Linked DNA regions of Homo sapiens. The protein of the gene in region 1 purifies or fractionates together with the protein of each later gene. This does not show direct contact. Each region holds a gene or a part of one and is shown on either strand. Other genes may lie near its edges.

Evidence for each region. The genes of interacting proteins can lie anywhere in the genome.
Region 2: the proteins of NOLC1 (region 1) and CSNK2A2 purify together in Homo sapiens (affinity purification with mass spectrometry; 5 studies listed by BioGRID and IntAct, with this or other methods). This does not show direct contact.

The regions. Positions count from the first base shown.
Region 1 is NC_000010.11:102,150,334-102,153,933, forward strand, and holds the start of NOLC1 (nucleolar and coiled-body phosphoprotein 1), read left to right. Parts: upstream 1-2,055; 5' UTR 2,056-2,077; coding exon 2,078-2,197; intron 2,198-3,600. UniProt on the Homo sapiens protein: Nucleolar protein that acts as a regulator of RNA polymerase I by connecting RNA polymerase I with enzymes responsible for ribosomal processing and modification.
Region 2 is NC_000016.10:58,163,438-58,167,262, reverse strand, and holds part of CSNK2A2 (casein kinase II subunit alpha'), read left to right. Parts: coding exon 1-56; intron 57-578; coding exon 579-679; intron 680-1,554; coding exon 1,555-1,703; intron 1,704-3,115; coding exon 3,116-3,192; 3' UTR 3,193-3,209; exon of another isoform or gene 3,210-3,825.

The DNA of each region.
Region 1 (3,600 bases):
CTGCTGTTGTGCGTCTTTATATGGTGCTAATGCCAAATGTATTCACTTTTCCTATCTGAACATGGTCCAGGGACATGCCTCTCCCTGGTCAGGTGCAAAAATCCCACTGGATTTGAACCTTGGTTCCTCAGATGTATTGTCTAAAATGAGTCATTTAGGACAGTGCTTCTCAACTTTAAAGGGAATTTGAATCATCTAGCGATCTTTTTAGAATGTAGATTCTGACAATGGGATGATGATACTGGTCCAGGAAGGGATTTTGATAACAAGGACCTAGAGAAGCTCACACTTGTTCCAAAGAAAGGTTTTCTAAACTGCGACAGGTGTATACATTCATCATGTCAGTTATGTTCATCATTTTATAATAGCTTGAGCACACTGCATGGCACAGCAGGTGCTCAAATGTTTTAAATAATGCATGCATGTGGGTAGAACAGGAAGCGTGGGGAAGAGGGAACTGTGGAGTTTTTTGTTTCTGTTTTTGAATTTTTTTGTTTTGTTTTGGAGATGGAGTCTTGTTCTGTCTCCCAGGCTGGAGTGCAGTGGCACGATTTTGGCTTACTGCAACCTCTGCCTCCCGGGTTCAAGTGATTCTCCTGCCTCAGCTTCCTGAGTAGCTGGGATTACAGGCACCCGCCACCATGCCTGGCTAATTTTTTTTGTATTTTTAGTAGAGACAGGGTTTCACCATGTTGGCCAGGGCTGTTCTTGAACTCCTGACCTCAGGTGATCCACCCACCTTAGCCTCCCAAAGTGCTGAGATTACAGGCATGAACCACCGTGCCCAGCTTTGTTTTTGATTTTTGAGATAGGATCTCACTCTGTGGCCCAGGCTGGATTGCAGTGGCAGGATCATAGCTCATTGCAGCTTTGACCTCCCTGGCTCAGTTGATCCTCCTGCCCCAGCCTCCCAAGTAGCTGGGACCACAGGTGCATGCCACTACACCTGGCTAATTTTAAAAATTTTTTGTAGAGATAGGGGGGTTTCACTGTGTTGTCCAGGCTGGCCTCTTAACTCCTGGGCTCAAGGGATCCTCCCACCTAGGCCTTCCAAAGTGTTGAGATAACAGTTGTGAGCCACTATGCCTGGCCAATTTTATATAGGAGAGGGGGGTGTGTTCCCATGAGGATCCTTATCTTTCCTGAGCGGCATTAGTGGGAGGTAGCCAAGGGGTAGTGGGTAGGATTGAAGGGATTGCTAACTGCTAATATCTGGAATGTGGCAGAACTTGGAATTAACTTGGTAGGTCTGAGCATTGATACTGGAGTTACTCATGACAAAGGCATTGATACTGGAGTTACTCATGACAAAGGCAGAGTGTGAACTCTGATCCCGGAGGAAGAAGGGTTATTTTCAACAATCTCTTCAGCTTGAATAGATTGTTGCTGTGTGTGATTCAGGTTTGGTGCATGACACCTTTCCTCTTCATGGAGCTGACCTAAGGCGGAATATAAGGGAGATGGGAGGGGCAGCTTGGGAAATCAACACCTCCCACCCTCACGACGGATAACCCGAAGGATCTTCTGCAGCAGAGGCAGGAGTCTGGAGGCTGGGATGGTATCAGAAAGGGCCTCCCTGGGTATTGGAGGCAGTGAAGATGAAGGGCGAGAATCCATTGGCCGTGCCAGTACGCCATGGGGGCGGTTGGGAGATCTTGTAGAACAACTGTTCGAGCCCGCTTGTCCACTCATTACTCTGGAATCCGAGTCCCAGCAGGGGCGCGGGAAACCGCTGCTCTGAGAAAAGGTACCTCCCCCAGAAAGACTGCGCGGGAAGTCCCGAGTTTTCCCGCCACGCCGAGGGCGTGATCCCTGACGTCAGAGCTCCGCCTCCACAAGCTGGCGGCCGGTGGGCTCCGCCCTTAACCAAGATGGCGATACGCGTGGGACCGGAAAGAGTTTATAGATTTCCCGTCTACCCTACCTCTGAGGTGAAGGTGGGACTGCCCTGTGGAGCCCACCCTTTCCGTTATGCGCCCGCGCGGCGCAATGACGTAACACAGGCCCGCCCACTGCCCCTGTTGGGTTCCTGAGTCGTGCTGCGTCGACAACGGTAGTGACGCGTATTGCCTGGAGGATGGCGGACGCCGGCATTCGCCGCGTGGTTCCCAGCGACCTGTATCCCCTCGTGCTCGGCTTCCTGCGCGATAACCAACTCTCAGAGGTGGCCAATAAGTTCGCCAAAGCGACAGGAGCTGTGAGTTCCGGGCTTGGGGCGGGGACCGGGCTGAGATGACCACAAGGCTTCAGGCCCTGACGTGCTTAGGTTTCCAGGTGGGGAAGTCTGGGGGTCCGCCAGTCCAGTGTCTGCAAGGCCTTTACGCCGACCCCTCGGCAGTGACCAGAGAAAGCCTGCGGCCTCGGTCGCTTACCTTCCTCCATGTCTGAGTAGATATCGCTGAGTCTTGTTGCTTTTTTCTTGTGACCTGTGCAGCGGCGGCAGCGTGGGAGCCTCGTGGCCCCAAGCCACATGGCTGGCAGAGTGCAGCGGGGAGGTAGAGTCTTGTTCCACTGAGGACGTTGGTTCTTCGGCATCTTCTGGGGGGCTTTTCGTTGGGTGAGGCAAACCGTGATTTGACCTTAGCCTCAGTCACATTTACTGGGATTCAAAAGCAAGTGAAATTTCTTTAGAATGAAGTCTGGGATTTTCGTTTGTAAAGAAGAAAATGAATGAAAGTAGAAGCAGAGTTTTGTTTTGAGTTACACTGAGAATTGAGAGTCATCAACAGCCCTACCAAGTAGGCATAGTAGTGGGCTTGGAGCTTTGGCTAATTGAATCAAACAAACCTAGGTTTGGGACCAGGCTCTGCCACTTTTTAGATACGTGACCCGGGCAGTTTATTTAACCTTTCTGAGTCTTTCTACAGGGATGTCATCATCCACTTTATAGGATTTTTGTGAGTTTCAGTAAGATGATGTGTAAGAGTAGCAATCTCAGTGCTGGTACAGAGGAATCTTGTAAAAGTGAAAGCTGTACCATAGTTATGGCAATTTAGGATGCTCCAAACACATGTAAGAGTAAGAGAACCAGGAATGTGAAAGGTTTGTAATCTACATCAACGGACATTCCTGCATGGGAAGACACTTTGAGAGAGGAGAGAGGGGGGGTCTTCAGCAGGGATGATAGCATGACTAGGAAGGATGGCTTGCACTTTTAGCAGAATCAGGCTGCGAAAGCAAAGAATCAGATCAGCCTCAAAACTTCCTTAAGCTGGGACAGGCTGCCATGTGATCTAACTGCTTTCTTAATGAAACTGTTTAGAGTTGACTGTTAAGGAGACTGCGGAGAGTGCTTTCACAGTGGACTGGATGGAATTGGACATTTCAGAATTAGGATTCTTTTTTTTTTTTTTTTTTTTTTGAGACGGAGTCTCTGTTGCCCAGGCTGGAGTGCAATGGTGCGATCTCGGCTCATTGTAACCTCCGCCTCCCAAGTTCAAGTGATTATCCTGCCTCAGCCTCCCCAGTAGCTGGGATTACAGGCGCGTACCACCACGCCCGGCTAATTTTTGTATTTTTAGTAGAGATGAGGTTTCACCATGTTGGCCAGGCTGGTCTTGAACTCCTGACCTCAAGAAATCCACTTGCCTCAGCCTCTCA
Region 2 (3,825 bases), on another chromosome or scaffold:
CAAGCATGATCTTTCGAAGGGAACCATTCTTCCATGGACAGGACAACTATGACCAGGTGAGCAAATGCTTTCTGGTTCTTATTTATTTGGGGGTGAATGCCAAAAAAATAGCATCCTTAGATAAGAATACTATCCTTGAGCCACTAAGTATCACTCAGTGTCTGCATATGAGCTTTTCTTCAAGATAAAGATCGCACAGAATTTTGTGTTTACCAGGTCCGCAGAAGTAGAGGCAGATAATGCCATCTATGCCAAACTTCCAAAGTGAATCTGTGAAGAAGTCAGGCACCTCCTTGTCTAATAAAACTAGATTTTAGTCATTAGATTGTGATGCCCTGTACTGGTCCACCTCTAGAAGATTATTATCGTAAGTTGTATTATTTTAAAGGCCGTTTGGAAATTTGCATTCATGTGAACTTCTTGTCCTTGGGTCTGTCTGCCTGCCCTGGACCTGGGTTTGTATCTCGTTCCTAGAGGTTTAGTGGTGTGGAAGTCTTCTGATTCCTTGGTGCAGTGTCCTCACGGGCTCATGGTGTGTTCTGTGCTCAGTGATTTGGTCAGTTTGTTTTGTGTTTCAGCTTGTTCGCATTGCCAAGGTTCTGGGTACAGAAGAACTGTATGGGTATCTGAAGAAGTATCACATAGACCTAGATCCACACTTCAACGATATCCTGGGACAGTAAGTAAGAGAGAGAGAGAGAGTGCTTTACCTTACCCCGTTTCAGAAGTGGAAAGGTTAGCCAAAATCACTTTCTTTTCCCATTCTGATTATAGTAAAATGGAAGTAGCCCTCTTTTTTCCTATGCATATTTTCTTTTAACTTATTGAGATATTTGGACTTTATGTCTTTTAATCATTTTACTTCTCTGAGAGATAACCTATTAATAGAAAAGGTAAAACAAAAATCATAATGTTATAGAAAAAAGTTTTCTGGTACAGCAAAAGCTTATTTTTAATGGCCAAACTTGGAGAGCAATGATTCTTTGAATAAGAGACTTAGTTTGTTTTTTATTATATTTTATTTTATTTACTTCATATCTCTTCAAGGTGGACTTACAATTTCTTCTTGTTCTCTGTAATGGATTTTCTATACAATAGCAAATTTTAAAGCACATTGAGTTTTCAGGTACATTGCAATAATGTTGAGAAGTAAACATTTTGTTAACAGTTTTCAAACAGTATTTTATGGAACCTCCCTGTTTCTGAGGCTAGCCCTGGGAAATATATCTGCTGACCAATAAAAATTGCCCACTCTTCTGCATGCCACCCAGAATTGACTAAAAGTCTACAGCATAAAAAATAATCTAGAAAGGTTCCACATATTCTAAATGAGATATAGAAGTTTTACCTAGTTGTATTTTTCTAATCACAGAGCACCATTGTGTTTCAGGATGCTATGCTGTAACTATGGGGCCGTAGGGCAGGCACCAGTTAGAGATTTAACAAGCTTGTAATCAGTACATTATTCTGAGATTTTGTTGGCTTTAGCCCTAGTAGATAAGGATTCTTGTTGAATTTAGTCTCTGGTTACTAATGCTTCATTTTTCTTCTCAGACATTCACGGAAACGCTGGGAAAACTTTATCCATAGTGAGAACAGACACCTTGTCAGCCCTGAGGCCCTAGATCTTCTGGACAAACTTCTGCGATACGACCATCAACAGAGACTGACTGCCAAAGAGGCCATGGAGCACCCATACTTCTGTGAGTCTCCAGGGACTGTGTTCAGGGAGTAATTCAGTCAAGAGAACAAATCTTCCACTCTTTGTCTTTGAGACCAGTCAGGAGAATTCTAGGGTATTTGGATTGGATTATTCCTAGAATTTGGCCTCATTTATCGTAGATGATTGAGACAACTTTGCAGATCCGTTTCTTGATCACCAAAGGTGTTTGCTTATTCACTGAATGTATCTCCCCGGAGTTCAAGCTGTTTGACTACTCCCTGTTACCCTGAGTTAATAGATCGCAAGTTTCTAAAATTTCTTTTTAAACATACATATATTTGTGTGGAAACCTAATTGAAGATTATTTCTCCCCTCAGAAAACTAGTAATTAGTTAAAAGTAGTAAGATAACTATTGTATGTTTTGAAAGAAGGAGATGAACAGATGGATGGACGAAAGGAATTTGAGGAAAGGGAAGTAAGTGTGGAGAGGCCTCACTGAAATCTTGACTGAACTGCTCACTTAGAAGTGTGTGTGGATTCACTTTGCGTGTTTGCTTATTCTTCTGCATGTGTATGGTTCTTTCCTCTGATAACGTGTGTTTCAAATAAACTTCCTCCTATTATCAGTCTCCTTCCTGGGGAGCAGGGAGGTTGAGAGACTTACCTCAGTCGCTTTCTGAATCAAGAGGGAAACGTTCACCCCTTAAAGTCGTTGTCTCTGGCTTAACAAACATGCTGTCTTTCCCTCTCCTTTGATTTCCTCTGGAGATGAACTAAATTCTTGCCTGAAGAATGTGTCGCTGTAGTCTTGAGCCTGTGGCCCATATGCATAAGGGAGACCGCAAATGGAAAAGCCTTCAGCCTTCTAGACCTCAGCCCCAGGAAACTCAGATGTCCCCGCCCCAGTGTCTGGCACAGAAAGCTGTTTTTACCCGAGTTAGATCAAATTAGGAATACTGATGTTTATGACATGTCATTAATGATCTTTCTGCTTTTCTGAATATATGTCATACTTCAATTTAAAAAATTTCAAACTACGGTTGCTTAAAATGGATAGGTCTTCTGATGGCTCTTTTTACTCACCTTTCCTTTGAAGTGCTTGTTATTCTACATGCTTTGAAGAAATTAGGGGTTAGAGATGATATTAATATTGAAAGAAAATAAATGTAGAAATTTGAACAGTGGGAAATTAGAGTTTCTATGCCTCTTAGCATTGAGTCTGTACTCCGAGGAAGGGTAAGAGTTGACTGCAATAACAATTTCCCTGATCATTTTTCAGTGTTTGGTTTTTATATGGCTGGAATTCCGTGATTTCCGTCTCTCCTGTTGCCCCCCTGACCCTGGCTTGCCCATCAGTCTGTCTCTCTTTCCGTTGAAAGGGTGGGTTTGCCATGGGCTTCTCTCAGCACTCACCACCCTGATTGCCTGACTTTCCTCCTGCTTTCTTGCAGACCCTGTGGTGAAGGAGCAGTCCCAGCCTTGTGCAGACAATGCTGTGCTTTCCAGTGGTCTCACGGCAGCACGATGAAGACTGGAAAGCGACGGGTAATGCGGCATTGATGCTTGCCAATAAAACCAACCAACCAAACACAAACCTTGAAGGAAAACTACAGTGTGATAAAAAGAAATTCTTATCATTCCTTCTAAATGCACAGAAGAGTAAAGACCTAAAAGTCTGTCAAAAAGCAAGAAAGAAACTCCCCAGTGCTAGTCTCCAGGGAGCTGTCACTGTGGCAGCATGGGGATGCACCTAGTTCAGGATCTGAAGGAGCTCTGCCTTTGGAATGCATGGGAGATAGAGACTCGGAGTTGTTGTACATTTACCTTTGTTTAACAGGGCACCACTGTTGAATTAACCCATTCAGTCAACAAGCTCTGAATGTCTGACTTCCTATCTATTCCATTGTGGTCTGGGTTTCCTTTGGTGAAATTCAGGCTCAAGTCTTAGCGAAATGTCAGCAGTCTATACTGACACACCAGCCTCATTTACAAAAAGGAGATATTAAAACAGTGACAGTATTTTTTTTTTAAGCTCTTTACAAATCCACGTTTTATGTATTTTTTAATGACATGAGCTCTCCAGGAAATGTACCTCATCCCCGCAGTTTTCCTCCAAGTGGATTCATTTGGGAGCAAACTGCAGTCACTTTCACAAGAGTCC